Linked DNA regions of Homo sapiens. The protein of the gene in region 3 purifies or fractionates together with the protein of the main gene of each other region. This does not show direct contact. Each region holds a gene or a part of one and is shown on either strand. Other genes may lie near its edges. The genes, in order: TCEAL2, TMOD3, LRRFIP1 and MCTS1.

The links.
Region 1: the proteins of LRRFIP1 (region 3) and TCEAL2 purify together in Homo sapiens (affinity purification with mass spectrometry; 2 studies listed by BioGRID and IntAct, with this or other methods). This does not show direct contact.
Region 2: the proteins of LRRFIP1 (region 3) and TMOD3 purify together in Homo sapiens (affinity purification with mass spectrometry; 2 studies listed by BioGRID and IntAct, with this or other methods). This does not show direct contact.
Region 4: the proteins of LRRFIP1 (region 3) and MCTS1 purify together in Homo sapiens (affinity purification with mass spectrometry; 2 studies listed by BioGRID and IntAct, with this or other methods). This does not show direct contact.

Annotation. Positions count from the first base shown.
Region 1 is NC_000023.11:102,121,322-102,128,233, reverse strand, and holds TCEAL2 (transcription elongation factor A protein-like 2), read right to left. Parts: upstream 2,556-6,912; 5' UTR 2,428-2,555; intron 1,862-2,427; 5' UTR 1,789-1,861; intron 1,431-1,788; 5' UTR 1,404-1,430; coding exon 720-1,403; 3' UTR 522-719; downstream 1-521. UniProt on the Homo sapiens protein: May be involved in transcriptional regulation.
Region 2 is NC_000015.10:51,825,749-51,832,666, forward strand, and holds the start of TMOD3 (tropomodulin-3), read left to right. Parts: upstream 1-3,904; 5' UTR 3,905-4,088; intron 4,089-6,918. UniProt on the Homo sapiens protein: Blocks the elongation and depolymerization of the actin filaments at the pointed end. The Tmod/TM complex contributes to the formation of the short actin protofilament, which in turn defines the geometry of the membrane skeleton.
Region 3 is NC_000002.12:237,777,557-237,782,149, reverse strand, and holds the end of LRRFIP1 (leucine-rich repeat flightless-interacting protein 1), read right to left. Parts: intron 2,729-4,593; coding exon 2,618-2,728; 3' UTR 507-2,617; downstream 1-506.
Region 4 is NC_000023.11:120,607,073-120,614,108, reverse strand, and holds part of MCTS1 (malignant T-cell-amplified sequence 1), read right to left. Parts: intron 5,885-7,036; coding exon 5,751-5,884; intron 3,099-5,750; coding exon 3,031-3,098; intron 1,927-3,030; coding exon 1,845-1,926; 3' UTR 1-1,844. UniProt on the Homo sapiens protein: Translation regulator forming a complex with DENR to promote translation reinitiation.

The DNA.
Region 1 (6,912 bases), on a different chromosome or scaffold from region 3:
ACAGGTAAGATTTACCCTAGTCCTCTTCCAAGTGTCTGAGGGGGTATTTTTTTCTGCTAGAGCAGGGGAGAAGGTAGATGCCAACCCAACAAATATATTCTCTACCTTATCCAACCCACTCAGCAGTTCTGAAAAGCAAGGTATTATCTCTATTTGACAAATGAAAAGACTGTCCGTTAGAGCAATGGATCTGTAATAACCCCAGATTGACTTCTCCAGATGAGTCCCACAGGTAGGTAATGTGAATTTTACCTATCATTTTAAGTTCTGACAACAAGAACGTTAAGTGTCTCTACTGAACTTCATAAGTTCACTGGACAGTTATTCTCTTTGCTTTTTACATACTGTTCTGATTTTTTAAAAATATTTTATTATTTTTGTGAGAAAAGTAATTTGTGTTCTCTGGGAAAAGAAAGATTAGTAGAAAGAAAACAAAGAAATGAAATCACCTGCTAGCTCACAACTCAGAAAACCACTGTTAACCTTTCATGTATTTAACAAAAACAGACAGATTCTGTAGATGATATTATAAGCTGCTTTATTTTTCCACGAATCATGACGTCTCTGCAATGCACATGTGTGAAAATCTGCTACTGAAACATAGAGCAAGCAAACACTGGCAGGTGGGTCAAAACGCTACTGGTAGCAGGAGGAACGACTAAAGCAAAGTATTACCATAAGGTTAAAACATATGGCCTGACAAATGCCTGCCAGGGACACTACACATAAGGAATGTCTTCAGTGTCCCTTCGTGGGGCCCTGCAGCCACCCCTGAATTCCCTTGGACCCCTAGGATAGAAGGGGTCCTGTAAATTTCTTTGCATCCACAAAAACGCCCCCAATTTCTGTTTGCTTTTTCTCCTTTTATCCTCCACCCTAGCCATGTTGTCAAATTCTCTTATCATGTCCTCATTGCTGAAATTCATATCATGTATGGCTTCCTTATATTGCTTGAGGTACTGAGCCAGCCCCTTGTTGGTTTTTCTTTTGGCTTTCCTGGGTATATCATCCTCAGCTGGGCGCTTTCCTGCAGCCCTTGTTTCACTTTCTGGCTCTCCCTCACTCTCTGGCTCTCTTTCACTGTCTGGCTCTCCTTCACCCTCTGCCCTTCCCCCTCTCTCTGGCTTTCCCTCTGTCTTTGATCCTCCCTGCATCTCTGACTTTCCCTTCCTCTCTGACTTTCCTTCTCCTTTTGCCTTTCCCGCACTCTCTGGCTTTTCTTTATCCTTTAACGGTTCCTCAACTCTCTTGCCCGTGTTTTCTGTGTTTCCCTCGTTTTCTAACTTCTTGTCTTCCAGAATACAAGCTACTTCTGGCTTTCCCTCGTGCGGTGGCTGTTCTTCATTGTCTATCTTTCCTTGATTCGAAGGCATTCCTTCATTTTCATTGAAGAGTTTTTCCATGTCGAGATTTCCCCTCCTTTTCCTTTCCTGGGGGATGGGTGTGGAGGGAAGAGGAGACAAAGAGGAGACATGGGAGACTGAGGGCATGGGGTGGAATGCAGGTCTGGATACTACTTGCATCTCACCCCTGGTGAGGGTTCCCCTAAGCTGACTGGGCCTCCAAGAGGGCCTTCTGCCCACCACGTAGCCCACCACTCCTCCCACACACGTGAGCCAGCTGTTCCCTGGCAGGCCCTGCCACCTTCTCTGCACTGGTTCAGCCTGGTAAGGTGTGTGTTCATGTAGGTAAGGGGATGGGCAGGGGCCCCAATTCGGCCCTGACTGTGCCCTCCACACTCTCAACCCTTGTGGGCCCCTGTCCATGCAGCCCCCTGCTTTCACGGACCTGCGGGGATTCTGGACAGGTTGCTCTTCCTTTTCAGGCCTCTCAGAGCGCTGGGAACAACAGACGCGCAGACCTGCGGACAGACAGGAGACAGGGGCAGGGGCTGCGCGCTTAGCGGGCTCACAGGGACTCGGTTCCCTTTCCTGAGTCCAGGCCCTGCTTACCCACCGTTTTCCTCCCCTACCTCCCCCGCACCCCAGCCGCCATTTCTTTCCAGGCCTCGGGCACCAAACCAGGATGCTTTCCAAACTGCGTTTGTCTCTGTGTCCCCCTTCCCCGGAGGCAACCTGCCCCAGCGCCACCTCATTTTTGCGGAGATCAAGTGTTTCCATGGGTGTAGATTGTGAGAAGGGGTTATTTCCAGAATATGTCTACGTTTCACTGTCGCACTGCGGGGTCGCTACCCCCACCCCCCATTTCCAGCACTAAAATGGATGGAGGACTCAGTGCAAGGGGGCGTCGAGAAGGCGAGCCAGGCTTGCTTCGGGGGTTCTCCCTCCACTGCCCCCGCCCCCGCGACTCCGCATCCCCCTCCTCCCCAATCTACCGGATCCCTTCTCCGCCCCCTCCCCAATCCTACTGCCAGCCCCCTCCACCCCTGTCCCAGGGTCCGCCGGCAGCGCACGCCTTCACACTGACCTGCGGGGACCCAGGACAGGCCTGTGCCTCCTGCGGCTCGCTGAAGCCCGCTCGCTGCTCCCCCGCCGCCTGGGCAGCTCAGACAGCTGATTCTGCGCGGGCGCCCGGACCCGACCGCTGGGCGGGCTGGCGGGCGGGCGCGGGGGCTGGTGCCCACGTAGGCGCCGGGCGGGTCACGTGAGCACCGCGTCACCGGAGCTCTGCCCCCGCTCTTGCCTGACACACCTCACCTTGGAGCTGGGCCCCCCTCTCTTTCCTGACATACCTCACCTTCCATCCCTGAGGGACCGGAGGCTGGGGACGGTCGGAGTCTCGGTGCGTTTGTGTAGCAAAGTGGGGTCGCGGAGAAGAGGAGGAGAGGTGGCTTTCTGACCCTAGGTGCTTTACCTGACGCAGCTCACAGCATCCTCGCAAGGCATATCTCTCTGATGCCCATTATCGCCAGGTGTGACAGCTGATCATAGAGGTACCGGACTTTGCCAAGAGCGCTCAGCCCCAGAACTCCACAGCCCACTTTCAATACCGGCTCTGCCTGACTCCAGAGCCCGGGGGGTAGTGGTGCCTGCCAGGAAGCTGAGCTGCCACCTTGAGTGGCGGTGTTCCTGGGGTTCTGTCCTGGGCCTCCTCTCTCCTCAGTCCTCAAGTTGTCTCTCCCTGTGTGATCTCATTCATTTCCAGTAAACACCGATGACTCCCAGATCTACAGCTCCAGGCTGTTCCCTTCTCCGTGTCTCATATCAGCTTTGCCAACTGTCTATTGGACATCACCGCCTGAGTGTCCCTGAGGGACCCCAAAGCCCGTGTACCCCAAATTGATTTACCAACTTCCTTCTTGCCATCTCCCTTGGTCTCTCTCCACACTTGAAACTTACCTTCCAACATTTGATCAGTTTTCATAGAGAGAGAATGTCAGACAGGTAGAAAAGAAAGCATTAAAACATTTTAAATATGAATTTCAGATGCACAAATTCATCATAGTCCTTGGTTTACAACACACCCTTATCATCGATCCCTGCTTGTCCCTCTTCCTTCCCTTTTCTTTCCCGTCCTATTATTTCCTCCCCTTCCCATCCTTTGTCTTTTTTTTCTTTCCTTTTCTTTCACATTCGTGAAGCCACCACCCACAAAAACTAAGAATCACCAATATTTTAGCTTCTACAGTATAGTGACATGTATATGTATATATACACATGTTTATTTATACACACATATATGTATAGATGTATATGTGTGTACATATGTATGTGTATGTCTTGTGTATATCTGGGCAACAACTATTTTTATTTTGATTTGCAAAATACCTTATCATGATTACAGGATTATGAATTATGTGTGTTACACAAGCAATTCTGATTATATTTCTGCTACACATCTTTCTTCATTTAGTAAAACCTTGATCTTCCTACAGTATTTTGCTCTATCAATATGTGTATTCGTCATTATCACCACATCACCAATAATTCTGTCCTCAATGTTGAATTTTTTTCCTGAATTATCGAGGCTAGGTGTTTCAATTTCATCAGTATAAACTTCCATAAAATTATTATAATTATTCAAGAATTTGATGAAAATAATATCAAATCAGTTGAAAAGAACTGATTTTCTGTTTTAATCATCTAATTATAGTGATTTTAAGCTGTCTTCAGTAACTATTTGCTAAGTTATTTTGCTAATGGAGCCAAAGTATTAACAACTATTTCTCCTCTTTTAAAACATATACACAAAAATGTGGGATTCAAAATTAGTATCATTAAATTTGAAGAAATGTCATTTTATCTAAATTAAAAGATCTGTTCACAAAATGAGAAGTCAACACAACTTTTGCATTTGCATGTAATAAATTGACACATTGTTCCTCAAGTAATTACTACCTTTGGAAGAAGATATAATGACAGTTCTCTTGATGCATAGTATATGTTGATTAAACATATTTTAAGTTAAATGTTTGTCATCCACTTTCTTAGAAAAGTAACATTACTGAACATACCATTCACTAGAGACCTTTTGTTTCTTATTGCAGAATAAAAGTATCATTCCCATCAGTAAAATAAATATAGACATATATTAACACTATAAAATCACTAAGTGATACCAACACCTGGCAGAGACACACACACAAAAAGGAAACTTCAGGCCAATATCCTTAATTAACATGGATGCAAAAATCCTCAACAAAATAGTGGCAAACTGAATACAGTAGCATGTCAAAAAATGTATCCACCATGATCAAGTAGGATCCATCTCCAGGATGCAAGTTTAGCTCAATATACACAAATCAATAAATGTGATTCATCACATAAACAGAACTAAAGACAAAAGCCACATGATCATCTCAGTAGATGCAGAAAAGGCTATGGATAAAATTCAACATCCCTTCATGTTAAAAACTCTCCATAAACTAGGTGTTGAAGGAATGTACCTCAAAATAACAAGAGCCATGTATAACAAATCCACAGCCAACATTATACTGAATGGGCAGAAGCTGGAAGCATTCCCCTTGAGAACCAGAACAAGACAAGGATGTCTCACACACTACCAGACAAAAACAATGCAAAAATGGAAGTAAAAAGTGGAGATCTGTGGTAGGCTTAATAATTGCCTTCAAAGATATCCAGGTCTTAATGCCTGGAACCTGTGAATTTTACCTTATATGGCAAAAGGGGACTTTGCAAATGTCATTAAGGATCTTGAGATAGGAAGATTACCAAGGATTATCCAGGAAGACCCTAAATGTAATAACAAGTATTCTTATAAAAGGGAAACAGAGAGAGATTTTACTACGGAAGAAGAAGGCAATGTGAAAACTGAAACAAGATTCTACACTACAGACTTAGAAGATGAAGGAAAAGGCCATGAGCCAAGAAAGGCAAGGAATGCAAACTCCAGACGATGGAAAATGTAAGAAAATAGAGTCTCTTTTGGACCTCCAGAGGAAGCAAAGCTCTGCCAATATCTTTACTTCAGCCTAGTAAAACTAATTTTGGACTTTGGACTTCCACAACTGTAAGAGAATTAATGTGTATCATCTTAAGCTAACAAAATTGTTATTTGTCACAGCAGCCCTAAGAACTAAAGGTTTCCTAAACCCATTCTGGCTTATTTTAACATAAATATCAGTAATAAGAGTACATTTTTAAAAATGACAAATTTTGGAAAACGTTAAGCTAGATGGGATCCTAGGTCAACAGGTAAAAATAATTAGGACTGTTCAGGGAAAGCCAGGAGATACTTTTATCCTAGAGGTAATTTATGTAAAGTCACTGGCACAGTGACTGGAACATAGCAAGAGTACAATTGGGTGAGTTTTCTTAGCTCCCTGGACAAGAATGCAATGCATTTTTAAAAACTTTTTTACATAATTGTAGATTTATTTGTAATTATAAGGAATAATAGAGATCTCTCTTATTCTTTTACCTGTTTTCCTCCAATGGCAACATCTTTTGTAGCTACAGTAGAGTATCACTACAGAAAATTAATATTGATATACTCTAACAACCTTTTTCATATTTCACCGTTTAACACACATCTATTTGTGTGAGAGTGTGCATGTTAGTTATATGCAATTTTATCACATATTTTTTCCCAGATGGAATCTCAATAACCTCCACATAGATATGAAAGGTGTTATTAAAAAAAATGGTTAGCACAGGAGAAATGACCTATCCAAGCCCTATGATGTAACTGGCTCTCAATGTTCTTTTGCAATGCTCTTCTGAAAAACCTCTTCTTGCAATGCTCTTCTGAAAAGCCTCTTCTTTCGGGGTCAATTGCACATATTTTTCTTGAGAATTTAACATAAAATATACAAAATGAATGATGAAGTATATGAAATAAAGTGAAATGAAGTGACGGTTTTATTTTACAAATTCAGTGGAACTGGTCCAGTGATTGTTCTTTTTTTAATTACTTTTATTTTAGGTTCAGAGGTATATGTACAAGTGTGTTTTAAGGGTAATTTGCATGCTGCATGTAATTTGCATGTTGTGGTGTGCAGATTATTTCATCACCCAGGTAATAAGCATAGTAGCTGATAGGTAATTTTTTAGTCGTCACCATCCACCTTCAAGTAGGCCCTGGTGTCTGTTGTTCCCTTATTTGCATCTATATATACTCAATGTTTAGCATGCACGTATGTGAGAACATGTGATATTTTGTTTTCTGTTCCTGTGTGAGTTCACTTAGGATAATGACCTCCAGCTTCATCCATGTTGCTGCAAAGGACACGATCTCATTCTTTTTTATGGCTATATAGTATTCCATGGTGTATATATACTACATTTTCTTTATCCAGTCTACTATTGATAGGCATTTAGGTTGGTTCCATATATTTGCTATTGTGAATAATGCTGCAATGAATGTACACCTGCATGTATCTTTATGGTAGAATAATTTATATTCCTTTGGGTATGTACTCAGTAATGGGACTGCTGAATTGAATGGTAATTCTGTTTCAAGTTATTTGAGAACTTGCCAAATTGCTTTCCA
Region 2 (6,918 bases), on a different chromosome or scaffold from region 3:
TCCACCCAGAACTGTCGGATTGTCCCTTCCACTTATATTTTATTGACCAAAGCAAGATTCATGTTTCTAAACTTTGTGATTACAATATGACATTTAACCGAAGAGAGGAGGAAAATCCCATCATGGGATCATAGCCAAGCCTGGAATGCCTGCGGGGCAGCACTGGAAGTCACATAGTAGTGGGCAAGCCTGTCTATTCCTCTAAAGGAGAGCAAATATGTGGGAACAATATTTCAATCTACCACAGGTATTTAGTGGACTTACCTTTTCACTTATTTATGTAAATCTAATTTCCATGTTTTTCCTGTTTGTTTTCCTCCAAGAATTATGTTTCCAACTCTAAGGGAATAGTGGCAACCCTAAATTATAGCCTTTTTAAAAGAGAGCTCTGTCTCTATTTCAGGACTTTCACAGGATCTTATTCTCCTGTGTAGTCAACCCTCTTGCAGCTGGTGTTTACATCCAAATCAGGTCACTGGCTGGCATTTACAGGTGAACCTTCTGGGTCTGTGTCCCAAGAGGAGAGTAGGAGAGAGAGGGAAGAACCCAACATTCATTTATTTACAAATATTTATTGAATACTTTCTGTGTGCAGGCAGTATTGTAGATGCTAGGGATGGAGGAGTAAACAAAGCAAAGCTTGTTGAGCTTCCACTAAGGAAACAAGCAATATGAAGCTATGTGGTAAAAGTGCTATGACGACAAGTAAAGAAAGGAGAGAATGGCAGGGTAAGGTGGTAAGAGGAAGACTTTCAGAGGTAACATGTGAGCAGAACCTTCATTAAAATGAGGGCATGAGCTAGAAGCATCTGGGAGGAAAATCATTCTCCTGCACAGCATAAAGACTCTGAGATGGGGAGAAACTTGGCAGGATTAAGAAACCTCAGGGAGGCCAGTATGACTAGAGCAGTATCAGAGAGAATATGTGGTAGGAAACAAAACAATCATATACAGATTTGTAGAGGTGTTAATTATGGATTTTATTCTAAATGTGATGGAAGCCATGAACGGTTTGGAGCAAGATGGTGATATGATCTGATTTGTTTTTAAAAGATCATTCTGGGCTGGGAGTGGTAGCTCACGCGTGTAATCCCAGCACTTTGGGAGACCAAAGTGGGCAGATCACCTGAGGTCAGGAGTTCAAGACCAGCCTAGTCAACATGGCGAAACCCCGTCTCTACTAAAAAAATACAAAAATTAGCTGGGTGTGGTGGGGTGGGGGGCCTGTAATCTCAGCTACTAGGGAGGCTGAGGCAGGCAGAATTGCTTGAACCCCGGAGGCAGAGGTTGCAGTGAGCAGAGATCACGCCACTGCACTCCAGCCTGGGCGACAGACAGAGACTCCGTCTCAAAAAAAAAAAAGTCATTCTGGCTGCTAATATAGCGAATGTGTTATAGCAAAGGAGTGGAAGAAGTGAGGAAGGTTCTACCTCTTCAGTGCTATCCAATACTAAGGTATTACTCTTAACATCTCTGGCCCCATATGTGGTATTTAATGTACACGGATTTAAGAGATTCATGTTTATAAGCTTTGTGATAAAAATATGATAATGTATGCCTGAAGAAAGGAAAAAATCCACCATCAAACTGCATTATTTTAGAAAAAGGAACTAAAATAAGATGTATACATTCGTTAGGAAAAATTTGAAATGAATAGCGAAAATATATTTAATATATGCCTAACAGCCCATATTGGAAGGTGAGAGAGGAAAAGTGTAATAGATTAAGTCAGTCAGACACTGAATTAAAAAGTCTCTCTGACCAAAGCAAAAGAAGCCATATTGCAGAGGAAAGTCCTTCTTAAAATAAACCATATCAGCTGGGTATGGTGTTGCATGTCTATAATTTCAGTACTTTGGGAGGCCACGGTGGGAGGGTCCCTTGAGCCCAGGAGTTCAAGACCAGCCTGGGCAACATAGGGAGACCCTGTCTCTACAAAAAAAAAAAAATTAAAAAAATTAGTTGGGTGTGGTGGCATATGCTTGTAGTCCCAGCTGCTCAGGCTACTCAGGAGGCTGAGGTTGGAGGATTGCTTGAGCCCAGGAGGTCACGGCTGCAGCGAGCCATGATAGCACCACTTCACTACAGCCTGGGTGACAGAATGAGATTGTCTCAAAAAAAAAAAAATTGATGAGATTTAGGAGACACATCAGTCTGATCAGCAGTGGAAATCACATTAGAATTTGACTCAAGAGAACTGTGTCTCATCTCTGGATCTCCAATTACTGGCTCTGGGACCTTATACAAATTACTTAACTTTTCTGAGTCTTCATTTTCTTATCTATAGAAATGGAGGATACCAGTTTATTCTTTATAGAGTTTTGAGGACTAGATTAGTTTTGAGGATTAGATGAGATATTACAAATGAAGTGCTGGCCCAGTGGTTGGTATGTATTATAAGTATAAACATTCTTATGAACCTGAATTCTGTAGGAAATTGCTCTCAGAAAGCTGTTATCTCCAAGAGATTGACCCAAAGATGGTATAGAAAATAAAATGCAATGGCCACAAGATTGAGTGTTGACTGTCCTCTAAGTATTTGCAATTGAGAAGGGTTTTTTCCTGGCCAAGCACGGTGGCTCACGCCTGTAATCCCAGCACTTTGGGAGGCCAAGGTGGGCAGATCATGAGGTCAAGAGTTCAAGACCAGAATGGCCAACATGGTGAAAACCCATCTCTACTAGGACTACAAAAATTAGCTGGGTGTGGTGGCACGTGCCTGTAATCCCAGCTACTTGGGAGGCTGAGACAAGAGAATCACTTAAACCTGGGAGGCAGAGGTTGCAGTGAGCCGAGATCACACCACTGCACTTTAGCCTGGGCGGCAGAACAAGACTCTGTCTTGGAAAAAAAAAAAGAAGGGTTTTTTTCCCTTAAAAACCTAAACCATCAGTGATCTCCATTGCTGAAATTAGTGGGTGCCAGTTGCATGAAATTCCAGGATGTTTATCTAACCTAGGGTCCTCCCTCCTCTGAGGGGAAGAAGTAGATGCCAGGAGAGGTTTAAACCATGAAGTGGCTCGCACACTGGGTGTAGCTGGAATGTACCTCAAGCAGGCACGTCAGTCCACTTCTTTGGCTGCATTTTTGAAAGGTGTGTCAAAGTTTAGCATTATTCCTGGGGATGGTCTACTCCTGAAGAGCAGGCCAGGAAAATTCCCAGTAAGTGACTAAATGAATAAATGGAAAAATGTCGCAGTTCCCTCTCCTCAGAGCCTCGCACAAAAGGTAGCCATTACATAGGCCACTGTCAAACAGTCCTCTGAGAGATTCCCACACTCTTCCTCTTCCCTCTAGACTACCCATCTGCCCCAATCCCCCCCTTGAGCAGCCTATTCTGTTTTTTCTCCCACTACAGCAGCCAGCCCCACCGCCTGGTGTAGAGCTTGAAGATGGAAAGGGAAGATAGGATGGGCAGAAACTGCCCTGCAATAGCTACATCATCCCCGAAACGCATACCTAAGAAAACCACTAAGGTCACCACACCCTGGAGGTGACATTCGCATGATTTATGCCTCTCTTGGGCTTTAGATTTTATTCCTTTACTTTTCTATAACTCTGTCATGACCAGTTTAAAGGCCCCAATGTCATGTCCTCGCATTAACAACCAAGGCTACAATGCAAGCCCTGCCATGTGCGCTTCTTTACAAAAGGTCAAAGTAAAAAGGAAATCTATACCAAAGAGCCTCTAGATACTATTTCCAGCTTCGGGGAAGTCCATAGTAGGTACTTCCACGGGTAGAGAACATTATCTTAGACTGGGATAAGGGTTGGTATTCGCAGTCCCCTTCCTACGTTCTGCCCATTGTAAAGACCAGGGTCAGCGTTGAGCCTCGCCCTTCTTGCTAGAACTACAACTCCCAGGATGCCCCGCGGCACGGGAGTGCGCACGCGCGTCGGAGGCGAAGGAGGAACCCACCGCACCTACAGGGCGGTCGAGTGAGGGAGCTGCTGGCGGGTGGGTCTGGCAACTCTTTGGGAGGCCGACGCGGGCGGACCGGCGGGTGCTGGGAACCGAGCCTCGGCTTGCGGCCGGCAGTTTCCGTGGGTCTGTGAAGAGGTCGGCGGCCCCTGCGGGCGCCAGTCAGGTAAGCCCAGCCCGGTGCTTTCCAGGAAGTCCGTCTGCGGGCGCGGGTAGGGAGTCGCACCGGCCATGGTGGCTGAGGAGGGAGAGGTTGCTGCCCGCCGGCCGCCCGACTCCAGGCTCCTTCCCGACGGGTCCGTCTCGGGGAGCAGGGGTGCGCGGGGGCTGCTTCTGCGCGAACGGCCCGGGCGGGGGACGTGGGGCGCGCTGGGCGTCGCCCGCCGGTCTAGGCGCGCGAACCTGGCGTTCCCAGTGAATCACCCGCGGCCCGGGCGCCCGGGTTCGGGACCGGCCCCCTCCCCTCCCGCTGAGCCGCGGCCGAGCTGGCTCCCTGCACCCTACCCAGCGTCGCCGGGACGCGATCACACCGAGATGGCACCGAGCCTCCTTCAAAGGCTTCGGCTTGTTGAAAGTGGGGCGGCGGAGTGGGGGAGCCAAAACTTAGGGCACACCCTTTTTGTGATTGAAATGTGGCTGCCCTTGCATTCACCGGTTTGATCTGTCTGCTCTTAGAATTAAGTTCCTAGCTCCCAGGCAGCACAGCTGGATCCGGCTGGGAAGTTTGTGTGTTAGTTTGTTTTGAGGACGTGACTGTGTCGTTATATTTTTGCTTGCGGGGGATGGTGTGTTTCCTCCGCAAGCCTGCATTCTGATTACAAACAGAAATGGGAAACAGCCACAGTTTCTTTTTTTCTTTTTAATGTTTAGTTAAGAATCGCATTTCCAACTTGCCCTTGGCCTCTGTTAAAACCAAAAGTCATCTGGCAATGAACACTGCAGTAAAACTTACCCCAGGAGGCCATACTTCAACAGGAAATAAGCCTGTGGAGATTTAAGTTAGTTATGTGCAGCCTCCCTTGGTTTGTAACATTTTCATGCAGCTCATGTCTCCTCTCCTTTTCTGAGAAACCTTCAGATTAATTTTTTTGGCAGATTAAATTGATTAATTGGCCCGTCAAAAATATATTAGGCTTGGAAAAATAGCTTTGCCAAGTCTCATTTACTCTTGCTAGTTTCTTCTTCCTAGGCACCTTTTCACCTTTAAGAGTCAGCAATCATAATAGTTACAGTCCCCTTTCTTACACATTCCTACGAAAGGAACAAAACGAATTAAAATGTCCCAATATATTTTAATTCTTTGAGCTTTCTTTGCTTTTGCAACTCTCAGAAATTGTAGTTTGCTGATCTTTAAAATTAGGTTGTTGGACCAGATGACCCCCAAGATTATTCTGCCCCTAAATATCTCTCGTTTTTAAAAGTTCATTTATTTTGCTCATTCAGGAAACACTGGCGATATGCATTCCAAGTCCTATGATAGACATGAGAAAGAGCAAACATGAGTTCTTGAGAATGCTGTAGACCTACTGCTCAATTTTATTTAATCATATTTTTTATGATTAATTCCTAAATTTTGTGGTATATCCAATATGCCAACCTACATTGTAATTAATAACTTCATCTGAAATTAAATAGGTACAGGTCAAATCCCATTCAAAGATTTTTCGTGTCTTAATTACTGGCCCATTGAAACAAAACAGGTTTGGTACAACAGAAAGGCCCTGAATGGTGGAGGGCAGTCTTTTCAAACACTTTAGCATGCATAATTCATTCAGGATATTCTAGGTTTGAAGTAGAGTCCAAAGTCTGTATGTCTGATGGGTGATGCTGTCAGAGACCATACTTTGAATGTCAAGTGTGGGGAGGTAATTTTAGAGGTATTTTCAGGTGTTTTTAATAGCAATTTAAATACTGGTACTGATAACTGATATTAGATACATAATTGATGGCTTTTTCAACTCTCAGTTTTTTAAAATACTGTAGTCCTATGAACTCTAACAAGAACAATTGTCATCATAAGTTTTTCTCCTTCTTTCCTTTTCCTTTCTCTTTGCTAGTTTTTCTTTTTTCTCTTTGCTTTTTTTTTCTCTCCTCCTCTTCCTTCCTTAATTGTTTTCATTCACATTAATTTGGCAATTCATGAATTCAAGTATGTGTCTTGCCCCATTCTGTATTCTGTACAAAGCAATGTTTCAGGCTCCTGGTGAATATGTATAAGACATGAGGCCAGGGCCGGGCCTGGTGGCTCACACCTGTAATCCCAGCACTTTGGGAGGCCAAGGTAGGAGGATTGCTTGAACCCAGGTGTTTGAAATCAGCCTGGGCAACATAGCAAGACCCTGTCTCTACAAAATAAAATAGATTAGCCAGGTGTAGTGGTGATGCCTGTAGTCCTAGCTACTCAGGAGGCTGAGGCAGGAGGATTGCTTGAGCCCAGGAGTTTGAGGTTACAGTGAGAGACAATGATTGTGCCACTGCACTCCAGCCTGCGTGACAGAGTAAGACCCTGTCTCTCTAAAAAAAGAAAAAAAATTATATATATATATATATATATATATATATGAATGACATGGTTCCTGTCTAGGACCTTATTCTCTTTGGGATTAGGCAGATATACTTATGTATAGTCCACAGCACTTGTAAGAGCCACCTGTAGGGAATAAAAACGTGGTAGATATTCAGGAGAGATATTTTCCAGTTGCAGGAGTGGGGAACAACTAAAGTCAATATTTTTTTCCATTCACTGGTCATCTCTTTCCCCAGGCTATACTGTCTATACTGTTTGAATGTATGTGACATATCTACATAGAGTATAGTGGAATTCTGTAAATTTATTTTATTTGGAACCTGAGATGAGCCAGATACATGAACATAATTAGAACCGGATGTGGTGGCACGCTTCTGTGGTACCAGCCACTTGGGAGACTGAGGCAGGAGTACCACTTGAGCCCAAAAGTTCCAGGACAGCCTGGGCAACATAGCAAGACCCTGTCTCA
Region 3 (4,593 bases):
GAAAATGAGGAATTCTAAAACACAAGAGAAAATAACATTTGATTGTAATTCTGAACTGCATTGGATTTTTATCTATTTATGTTATCCATTTATGATGTGTTTTGAGTGTTTTGCTCTATGTCCTAGATGTTATTTCATTTCTAAAAATGAAAATCATTCATAGGAAACATACAACAGGGATCCTGGTCTGGGTTTTCAACCATTTCTTTTCCAAATCTTCTAATTCAGGTTACAGCAGTGGTTCTCAATGGGAGGCGCTTTTACACGCCCCTCACCCCCGCAGTGGACATTTGGCAATGTCTGGTGATGTTTTTGTGTGTCATGACCGGGAGTGGGGTCTACTGGCAATGAGTTGGTAGAGTTCAGTGTTGCTGCTCAACATCCCACGGTGCAGGGGACAGCCACCCCAGCCACCAAGAACGACCCAGCTCCAGACGACCGTCGTGCTGAGGCTGAGAAACGCTAGGTTGCAGGGATGAAAGAAGCCAGCAACCAATTTCCATTCGTTACATCTGCAAAAAAAGTTTTATTTTACTAAATAAATTTAAAAATCGTGTTCTAGCTTCCTCTGGATTAGGAAGTGTGTGTAACATTGGTTTGCTGTTTCCAAAAGAATTGGTGGGAGAGGTAGAGACTGAAGGCTTGACTTCCTCAGAGCCACTGATAGGGAAAACGCCATCTTCTCAGGGCTGTGAGACACCTGGGAATCGATGCCTTGCAGCCCTGTTCTACCAGCTGGGAGACTTCTGCCAGTTCACCTTCCTGGACCCTGGGTCCCTCATCTGTAATGTGGATTTGATAACAGCATCTACCTCATAGAATTTCCGTGCAAATGAAATGAGTGAAAATATGTGAAAATTGCATGAGTGAAAAATACCTAAAAGCGTCAGCATGCTGCCGGCCGTGTCTGCGTGATGTGTGAGTGTTTGCTGCTGGTGTTATTCACGCATGACATAGACATTTTCCCAGTTAAACATGCTTGTATTCAGATGTTGTGGAAGAAACCTTAAGGATGAGACAAGGAACTGAATATCTCCCTTTTGCCGGTGGGCCCAGCATGGTCAGCACAGGGTCCCTGAGGGGCTTCGTCCAGCTTCCTTCCTCTTTCCTGTTCATACGGTGCCCGGGTGTGCAGTGTGGGTCTCCCAGTGGTGCCCACCTGCCAGCACATTTTGCTCACCTGTCCGACCCGTGGTTTCCTACTTGCCAGTGTTGGCCCCCAGCCCCCTATAACTTGTCTGCTTCCCAATGGGCAGTGGCAAATATCCTCTGCACAAGGAGATACAAAAATCTTGTGTATTTTAATAGAGATTTCATCTCTTTCTTAATGCAACGCAGCTGTGTATATCCTAGATCCATACAGTTCTGGGGGATGGACACTGGTGACCCCTAGCATTATGCTGGGAGTGTTTTCTTGATTATATACCCTGAACTCACAACCCTCACTCCAGCATTCTCCATGTGTTAAGACTAGATATGGTTTTGGATGATACTGACTCAGTTTCCACTTGCTAACGTCCCGAAAAGCTGACTGGCTTCACCAGCCATACTTGAAATACAACATATATGAACAGTCACTAAAAATCAGCAGGTAGCTAAACGTTTTTACTTTTGTCCTTGATGATATTGCCATCGTCTCTACTGTTACCTCCTCCTTCACTTCACTTTTTAAGTGCACTCATTCTGTGAAAACACCTTTTTTTTTAAATAGGGAAAGAAAAATGAATTGACTTGATATTCTTAAAAAATAAAAAGATGACCCAAAATATACAGAACCATTAATATGAAATTAAAGATCTTCTTTCTCAGTGGAAAAAAATTAGAACCACATTGCTGAAGTCTCTCAACATTTCATTTTTAATTTTTCTAATAGTACATTCTTTAAAAGAAGTTAACGACTTCAATTCCAAATATAAGGATTAAATAATGCAATGAAAAGCTGTCATTTTCAGTGAAGCTATTGCCTAATTACCCTGGAAAAAAGTATTCTTATGACTGAACTGATGCAAAAATCCCTTAGAAAAGCTTCATTTGTTGCCTGTAAAGAGTCTTCTTAAGGTCACTTTTACTTCTAGACTGCCCCCTTGTTTCCAGTGAAAGAGTTTTGCTTGGTAATGGCTTGTGGTTCCACAGTGTTTTGTGTATGAAAAGCGTAGACTAAGAGATACTACTGAAGTCGCTCAAATTGTAGATTCTGCCATGAAAGGAAGTCCCAACACTGTAACATTTCCCCTTAATCTTCAGCAAGACACATGAAAAAAAAAAAAAACTCAAGTCCCAACTGAATCTTTACTTTGATCATCACTTCCAGCGGCATTCAGAGGCTGCTGTGCGGTCAGACACAGAGCTCCCTCGAGGCCCCTGTGTGCTTATGAAGTACCTGCAGGTTCTGAGCGTCGGCGCCAGCCCGGGCCAGGGGTCTGCAGACAGAGGCACCTGGTGGCTGCTGGGGCTCCCTGGGGTGAGCCATGGCACGGGAGCCCCTAAGCGCCAAGCTCGCCACGGTCTTCGTCTCTCGGAAGGCAGGGGAAGAAGCAGCGCTCCCAGATAGGACAGAGAAAAGCCTATGAAACAATGCTCTCCAGTCACCAACCAGTTGCCTGATCAGAGCTGGAATTTACTGCTGGGACAAGAGTGCACTCCGATTTGCTTTCATTTTTTCCAGACGCTTCACTAAGTGGCCGTTGCTCACCTCGAGCTCTTCTGTTTTATCCAATGCAGAGCGGAGCTGGGAACGGAGGAAAGGCAGTGAGCTTTAAGGAACTTGTTTCCTCCAAACATAACAGGGTTCTGTGTTACCGAAATTCCAATCCTACTGAAAAATAAAATGATAACTTGGCCCCTGGTCCCTCATGATGCCCTTCCTCCTCTGAAACAACTGGACTCCAGAGAGGGAACACCCTTGGGGATCCTGATGGTTTTCTTTTTTTTTTCTTGAGATGGAATCTCGCTCAGTCGCCCAGGCTGGAGTGCAGTGGCGTGATCTCGGCTCACTGCAAGCTCCGCCTCACGGGTTCAAGCGATTCCCCTGCCTCAGCCTCCCGGGACTACAGGTGTGCGCCACCACCCTCAGTTAATTTTTTGTATTTTAGTAGAGACGGGGTTTTGCCATGTTGGCCAGGATGGTCTCGATCTCCTGACCTCGTGATCTGTCCGCCTTGGCCTCCCAAAGTGCTGGGATTACAGGCATGAGCCACCACGCTCGGCCTCTTTTTTTGTTTGTTTTTTTTTTTGAGACAAAGTCTCGCTCTGTCACCCAGGCCAGAGTATAACGGTGTGATCTTGGCTCACTGCAACCTCCGCCTTCTGGGTTCAAACAATTCTCTTGTCTCAGCCTCCTGAGTAGCTGAGACTACAGGTGCACACCACCACACCTGGCTAATTTTTTGTATTTTATTAGAGATGGGGTTTCACCATGTTGGTCAGGCTGGTCTTGAACTCCTGACCTCAGGTGATCTACCCACCTCGGCCTCCCAAAGTGCTGGGATTACAGGCGTGAGCCACACGCCCAGTGGGGATCCTGATGGTTTCACAAAAGGTAAGTGAGGCATGAGGTAAACAAACACAAACAACAAGAGCTGAGCCTGGACTGCATGGCGAAGGTGGTCCCCACAGCCCTGGCAGCCAGAGTCCAAGGCAGGAATGCCTGAGGCCAAGACGGCCACACCTGGGAGCCAGGGCCATGGAGCCTGAGAGTCAGGCAGAAGACGAGCTGCAGAAGCCACATTAGCAGGGCATCATCTGGACCCACAGGCAGCAGGGCAGAGTGGGGTGCCCTAAGCTGGGAGAACGTGGTTTTGGAGGGGTGACAAGAACAGGGTCTATGGCTCTGCTTTCGACCCAAAACACTCAAGGAAGCTTGTTTGGGTCCTGGGACAGAAGTCCCGACCCCACCTCACTAGCAGAGGCAGAAGCAAGCCCTTTTTGCAGGAAGTTTCCACAAGTTAAGCCTGGAGTTATTCCTACAAATTAAAATCAAGCATAAGCTCACAAAACACTAAGGTGACAAACCATTTGAGTGAGAGTCAACAGAAGCAATAAATGACAGAATTAGACCCCCAAAGACTGAGCATGTTTCAGTTGTCAGATACAGAAAACCAAACAGCTGTGTATGAAATATTTAAAGAATAAGAATACAATTTAAAAAGAGGACATACATGAACATGCAGCAAGAAACTATCAACAATGAAGACACTTTTTAAAAAAAATGGTGAACTGGAAAATCTTTGCAAAAACTTTAGGCATTATCCAATAGAGAGAGGTAAGGAGATAGAAAACATGAAAGAGAGATGGTTAAAAAATGTGGAGACAATGAGAATCTCTAACATCCTCTGATTAGAGTTCCAGAGGGGAAAGTGGAGAGACTAAAAAAGAGGAATTATTTAAGGAGTTAATGGTTGAATATTTTCCAAAATCAATTTTTAAAAAGACTTCACAGATCCAAGAAACACTATATATCTCAAGCAGAAAGATTCCAATAAACTACATCTAACAGTAAAACTGTAGAAAATCAAAGACAAACAGAACCTGAAAGAAACTAGAGAAGAAAAAAAAAGGTCCCTACAAAGGACCGACCGTTAAAACAACAACTTT
Region 4 (7,036 bases), on a different chromosome or scaffold from region 3:
AACAGCCAGCCAAATGATCTCTCTCTTTTTGCTATCCACCCTCACCTTTCTCACCAACTTCTAACTGTAACACAGGTCACCACAATCTTGTATATGTCTGTATCCATCTGAAAAATAAAATCACATGTCATATATTGGTAAACAACCAAATGAAGATGGCTAAGACACTAGAATAACAGCAAGGTTATTAGGAAGAAAAATGGTCTTTATCAATAAATAAATCCACAACTGCTCTTTTAACTCCCCAAACAGATTACTGTTCTTACTAAAGCAGGTCCATGTCCCTCATATTCCACTTATAGAAGATATACATTATTTAAGGAGTCTAGTGGGGACCCAAATCCAGATGTTCTGGGCATCTGTTTGGTATGACTTTACTCAAAAGAAGGCACTAAAAAAACTGAACCTGAATCTGATCAATCTTATTTGTTTACAGGATATACAGGAGGCATAAAAACAAGTTAATGACTTCACAGTGATACAATCAACAAAATCCAGAATATGTGTGGAAACTTTAAAGACAAAACAACTAGATTTCTTAAATAATTTAAGGGGGAAAAGAAAAGGTAACTTATAAATTAAACAGACTTCAATAAATAACAACCAAATGCAATGTATGAACCTTGTGTGGTACCTATTTCAAGCAAACCAACAGTTAAAGAGAATTAACAGTCTAGACAGTTGATCATATTAAGAAACAGTTCAACTTTTTAGGTGTGATAATGGTATTGTGGGGTTTTTCTAATTTTTAAAGATACACACTAAAGTAGTTATGACGCCAGGCATGGTGACTCATGCCTATAATCCCAGCACTTTGGGAGGCTGATCACTTGAGGCCAGGAGTTCAAGACCAGCCTGGCCAACTATAAAATATATAAAAATTAGCTGGGCACGGTGGCTCATGCCTGTAATCCCAGCACTTTGGGAGGCAGAGGGGGACGGATCACTTGAGGCCAAGAGTTCAAGACCAGTCTGGCCAACATAGCGAAACCCCATCTCTACCAAAAATACAAAATTAGCCGGGCATGGTGGCACGTGCCTGTAATCCCAGCTACTCAGGAGGCTGAGGCACAAGAATCGCTTGAACCCGGGAGGTGGAGGTTACAGTGAGCCAAGATCGTACCACTGCACTCCAGCCTGGGCAACAGAGCAAGACCCTGTTTCAAAAAAAAAAAAAAAAGAATAAAGTAGTTATGGATGAAATGATAGGATGTCTGGGATTTGCTTCAAAATAATTGGGGGGTGGGGAGAAATAATTGAGGTATAGATGAAATAAGACTGACCATAAACTGAAACTGGGTGATGGATATGGAGAGGTCCATTATACTATTCTCCAGACTTCTTAATATGTTTAGAATTTTCCATTGAAGTTTTTTTTAAAAAAACAATCAACAAAACACACACACACACACACACACACATACACACACACACACACACACACACACGAGAATGAGCACTGCTGGGTCCCCTGGAGTAATAGAATAAAATTCCTAGTCTAGTTTCTAGCCCCATTTAACTAGACAGTTTCTCTAGAGGTCTACCATAAAATGGCAATCCATTGACCAAGTCCTGCTCTTCACTCTTATATCATTAGCCTAAGAAAGGACATTAGTTGTATGAGTTTGCTTACTTACCAGATACCTTTTAATGTCCAAGTTTGCTACCCAATTTTAACTTGAGTTTAAGAAAACTTAAAATAATTTCTGAAGCTAACAGAATTTTAGCATCTGGTGAATTTATTCAGCATAACCACAGGCATTATCTTCATGCTGTCACACACAGACACAAACACAGATACAGCACAATATCCATATTTAGCCCAAGTGCATTCCTTCTGAGGCTCATTTATATGTCTTCATATGCCACAGCCCATCATTTAAATAATGGATATTTTCAATGCCAATTCCTTTGTTGACTTTCTCACTGTAGAAGGAAAAAAAACACATAAACATACTTTTATGCATTTTTATAGTCTTACTCGTGATAAATATAATTCAAAGTATATTGTTATTTTTTAATTATTAAGCCACAAGTAAAGAACTTATTGACATCACAATTACATTGTTGTTTATATTAAACTACATTACTCTGTGGCAGCTCATATCTAAAAGTGATTTTAGTGATCTAACTAGTGGGTCTATAGAACCAGAGTAACAATGTCACAAGACTAGGGGAATATCAAAGTGCTACATTAACCCTGAAACAAAATTAATACCACTAATTTGGTCATCAAATGGGTTCTAAAATTTTTAAATATACTGCCTATGTTTTGATAATATATCTTTACTAGTTCTCTAAATATTCTACATTTCTTGTATTACCAGGTCAGGATATAAGATACTGTGTGGTGGTGAGATATATCACTGTTTTTAAAACTAGCAGTAATGACCAGGTGCAGTGGCTCACACCTGTAATCCCAACACTTTGGGAGGCCGAGGTGGGTGGATCACTTGAGGTCAGGAGTTCGAGACTGGCCTGGCCAACATGGTGAAACCCCATCTCTACTAAAAATACAAAAATTAGCTGGACATTATGGCGCACACCTGTAATCCCAACTACTTGGAAGGCTGAGGCACAAGAATCGCTTGAACCTGGGAGGCAGAGGTTGCAGTGAGGCGGGATCGCGCCACTGCACTCCAGCCTGGGCAACAGAGTGAGACTCCATCTCAAAAAAACTTAAAAAAATAAAAATAAAAATAAATAAAATGAAGCTAGCAGTAAAACATCTTCCCTCCTCCCCCAATTTAAATGATACTAAATAAGATTCCTAAAGTACCACGTACACACATATAAAACAGCTGTGTTGGCACATGGGTTCTTTTCAGTGCTTAAGAAAGACTACAATCCTGAAGACAAAATAGGTTTCATTGGCTTCCTAAGTGTTAGGAAATATCAGAAATGAAGCTTCTGTGCTTGGATATTTGTGTAATGTGGTATGCATGATAGCAAATTTCACCTGTAATTCTGATGCTTCCTGGGTTGGTTACCCATATATCAAAAGTTAAGGGGGCCTAAAGTAAGACTTACATGTCTTCTGCAGACATCTTCATGACTCCAACACATAGAGCATGCTGTTTTCCTTCTGCCATGATAGCCTGAAAGAACACAGCTAAGAAAACTATTTATCAAAATGCCTTGGGGCCTCCCCATCAAGGGAAGGGTGTCAAATAATGATCATGTTACTAGTTAAGCCACTTGGAACCCCTCTTGTGTCTTCTCCTAGACCATTAACTCCTTGAGAGCAGAGACCTAGCAGAGTCTGTGGGTACACTGTAAATACTCAGTAAATGCTAAATGAATAAATCTAATAACCCCTTTTCTTTCAAGTCAAATGTTAATACTATAACCCCATGCTAACAAAACCAGAATAAGTCACACAAAAAAGGAGTAAAATTTCTTGCACATAAATACTAAAAACTGTGAAATCAATAAATATTAATTGTTCTGATTAATTATTCTGATCACTGACTAGTGGGGATTTTTGTTTGTTCTTGAGACAGAGTCTCACTCTGTTGCCCAGGCTGGAGTGCAATGGCGCAGTCTTGGCTCATTGCAACCTCTGCCTCCCGGGTTCAAGCAATTCTCCTGCCTCAGCCTCCCGAGTAGCTGGTGCTACAGGCGTGTGCCACCACACCCAGCTAATTTTTGTATTTTTAGTAGAGATGGGATTTCACCATGTTGGCCAGGCTGGTCTTGAACTCCTGACCTCATGATCCGCCTGCCTCAGCCTCCCAAAGTGGTGGCATTATAGGCGTGAGCCACCATAGCCGGCCGTTTGTTTTTTTGAGATGGAGTCTTGCTTTGTCACCCGGCTGGAGTGCAGTGGCATGATCTCAGCTCACTGCAACTTCTGCCTCCTGAGTTCAAGCAATTCTCCTGCCTCAACCTCCCTAGTAGATGGGATTACAGGCGCATGCCACCCCACCCAGCTAATTTTTGTATTTTTAGTACAGACAGGGTTTCGTCATGTTGGCCAGGCTTGTCTCGAACTCCTGACCTCAGGTGATCTGCCCGCCTCAGCCTCCTAAAGTGCTGGGATTACAGGCATGAGCCACCACACCCGGCCTGAATGGTGGTTTTATGTAAAGGCTGTTTTAAAATAATAGGTAAATTCCCAGTCTATCTTTAAGAGCCTGATATAACAGTTTCAACCTTTCTAGAAAAACCAGAGTGGTCTTGGTTAACATATGAAGTTTCTGGAATGTTAAACACTGCAGTACATATTTTAAAAAGTCAAGATTCAGGGTACACAAGACCTCTCTGTACCATTTTCTTTAACAACTTTCTCTAAATCTGTAACTGTTTCAAAATAAAAATTATTTTTAAAAGTAAAGACTAGGTACTAAGGAAATTTTCCATTTAAGGTTAACTCCAGAACTATAAATTTACCAACACTTAATAAATATTAAAAACAAACAACAACAACAAAAAACCCGTCCTCACTTTTCTCCCTTGATTTTCAATTCACTCAGTGTTCCAAATATGTGAGCACCTATTAGGCAAAAAGCATGTCAACATAAGCTGTTCCTAGAATATAAACATACTACTTATACTACCTCTTCGCTATAACTGCCCCAACAGAGAATATCATTTTTTTTTCTTATTCTTCTTAAACACACCCCTGGCCAGGTGTGGTGGCTCACACCTGTAATCCCAGCACTTTGGGAGGCCAAAGCGGGTGGATCACCTGAGGTCAGGAGTTTGAGACTAGCCTGACCAACATGGTGAAACCCTGTCTCTACTAAAAATACAAAAATGAGCCGGGCGTGGTAGTGGGTGCCTGTAACCTCAGCTACTCGAGGGGCTGAGGCAGGAGAATTGCTTGAACCCAGGAGGCAGATGTTGCAGTGAGACAAGATCGTGCCACTGCACTCCAGCTTGGACGACAGAGCGAGACTCCATCTCAAAAACTAAAATAAGATAAACACACTCTAAAAGTAGTTTCCCTATTCCCACCAAGTACCATTCCTTTTCTATACCCGAGGCAAATGGCTACTTTAGCTATGATAAAGGAGAAGATGTTCTCCTGTCCAGAATAGTCACAAAAATCTATTTAATCCAGAAAATAGCTGAAACAGCATGGTAGAAATGGAAATAATGCAGAATTATTCAGCTATGTCATGAGTTGAATCGATCTTTAAGGACCATCTGGGACTCTGACATTTCTCTTTGAGAAAACGTGCTCTGAGGCCCCCAAACTCAACTTTTCAAATAATTAATTTTCAAAATAAAAGTTGGAGGTTGCCAATATTTCCCACTATTCACTCCTAACACAAAATTGTTGCTTGGTAAGAGATACCTATACCTGGTGCCTAAATTCTTTTCCCTTTTGAGAGCTTTCACTCCAACGTATGTCAGTAAGTCAAAATGAACATTACAGTGGCAAGTTGATATCCAAAAAGCTGATCCAATTATATCATCTATATCCTTTCCCCTAGTAATCAAGAATTCCCTATTGTGTCCTAAGTCTGATAACAGTAGGCCCTGACTGGGCTGAAATGCAGCTGAGACTCTTCTGTAACTTGTTCTCATTTAACTTCTAAGAAACGACCTAAGATGAGATAATTTAGTAGCAACAAATAAAATTACTTTGTACAACTTCAAATGTAACCAGAAAGGCATGAGATAAGAGTAACAGTAACCTTCAAAAAAGTACATCTAATGTTCTCTTGGATGGTACACCTTTCGCAGTAATGATAAGAGCACAATGAATACATTTTTCAGCAGTTTTAGCCTGGGAAGGATACAACAATGGTATCTACTGCAGCAGGGTAAAGCTTAGCTCCAGGAGAAGTTAAGCCTGGACACATGATATTTGCTCCACTGAGTACAAATTTGATGGCTCCTTTATCAACCTGCTGGTGTGGCAGGATAAAAGGATCTGTAAGAAAAGATATACAATATATTAATAATAAGACTAATGACTCAACAGAAAAAGGCAAAGGATCTGAACAGTATTTCCCCAAATTAATCTGACAGATACAAAAGAAAACTCTGAAACACTATCATTTGTTTACCAAATTGGTAATCTTTTTTGTTTGTTTTTTTGAGACAGGGTCTTGCTCTGCCACCCAGGCTGGAGTACAGTGGAGCAATCAATACCTCACAATAACCTTGAACTCTTGGACTCATGCAATCTTCCCGCCTCAGCATCCCAAGTATTCTCCAAAAACCGTAATTTCAAAACTATGGTTTTTGGAGACTACTTAATATGCCCTGGGAAATTTTTGTGATATAATGTTAAGTGAAAAACGCAGAGTAAAAAAACGATTAAAAAGATCAGTGGTTACCTGGGGTTGGGGAAGTGGGGGGAGGAAGGATGAATAGGTGGAGCACAAAGGATGTTAGGCCAGTAAAACCATTCTGTATGATACTTTAACAGTAGATACTTGACATGTATTTGGGAAAAACCATAAAACTGTAGAATACAAAGAGTAAACCCTAATGTAAACTAAGGACTTGCGTTAATAATAATGTATCAATGCTGGTTCAATTGTTACAAATGTATCATTCCAAAACAAGATGTTATTCATAGGGGAATCTGAACTGGGGAGAGGGAACTCTATTCTTTCTGCTTACTTTTTCTGGAAACCTAAAACTGCTCTAAAAAATAAAAGCCTGTTAATTTAAAAAAAAACTACAAGGGGATGAGGAGAAGTTGGTTAAGGGGTATAAAAATACAGGTCGATAAGTTCTAGTATTCGAGAGTACAATAAGGAAATTATATTTAACAATGATTTACTCTATATTTCAAAATAGCTAGAAGAATTGTAATCTTCTCAACACAAAGATAAACGTTTGAGGTGACAGATACCCTAATTACCCTGATTTGATCATTACACGCTGTATAAAGGTATCAAATATCACATGTACCCCTAAAATATGTACAACTATTATAAATATATATAGGTGGTGGGGGATACAGGCACCACAACAGCAGACAATGTACAGCTATGACGTATCAATTTTTAAAAACTATGTAACAGAGAGCCCAATTTTAAAAAAAAATGCATTTACACACATCACAGGAAAT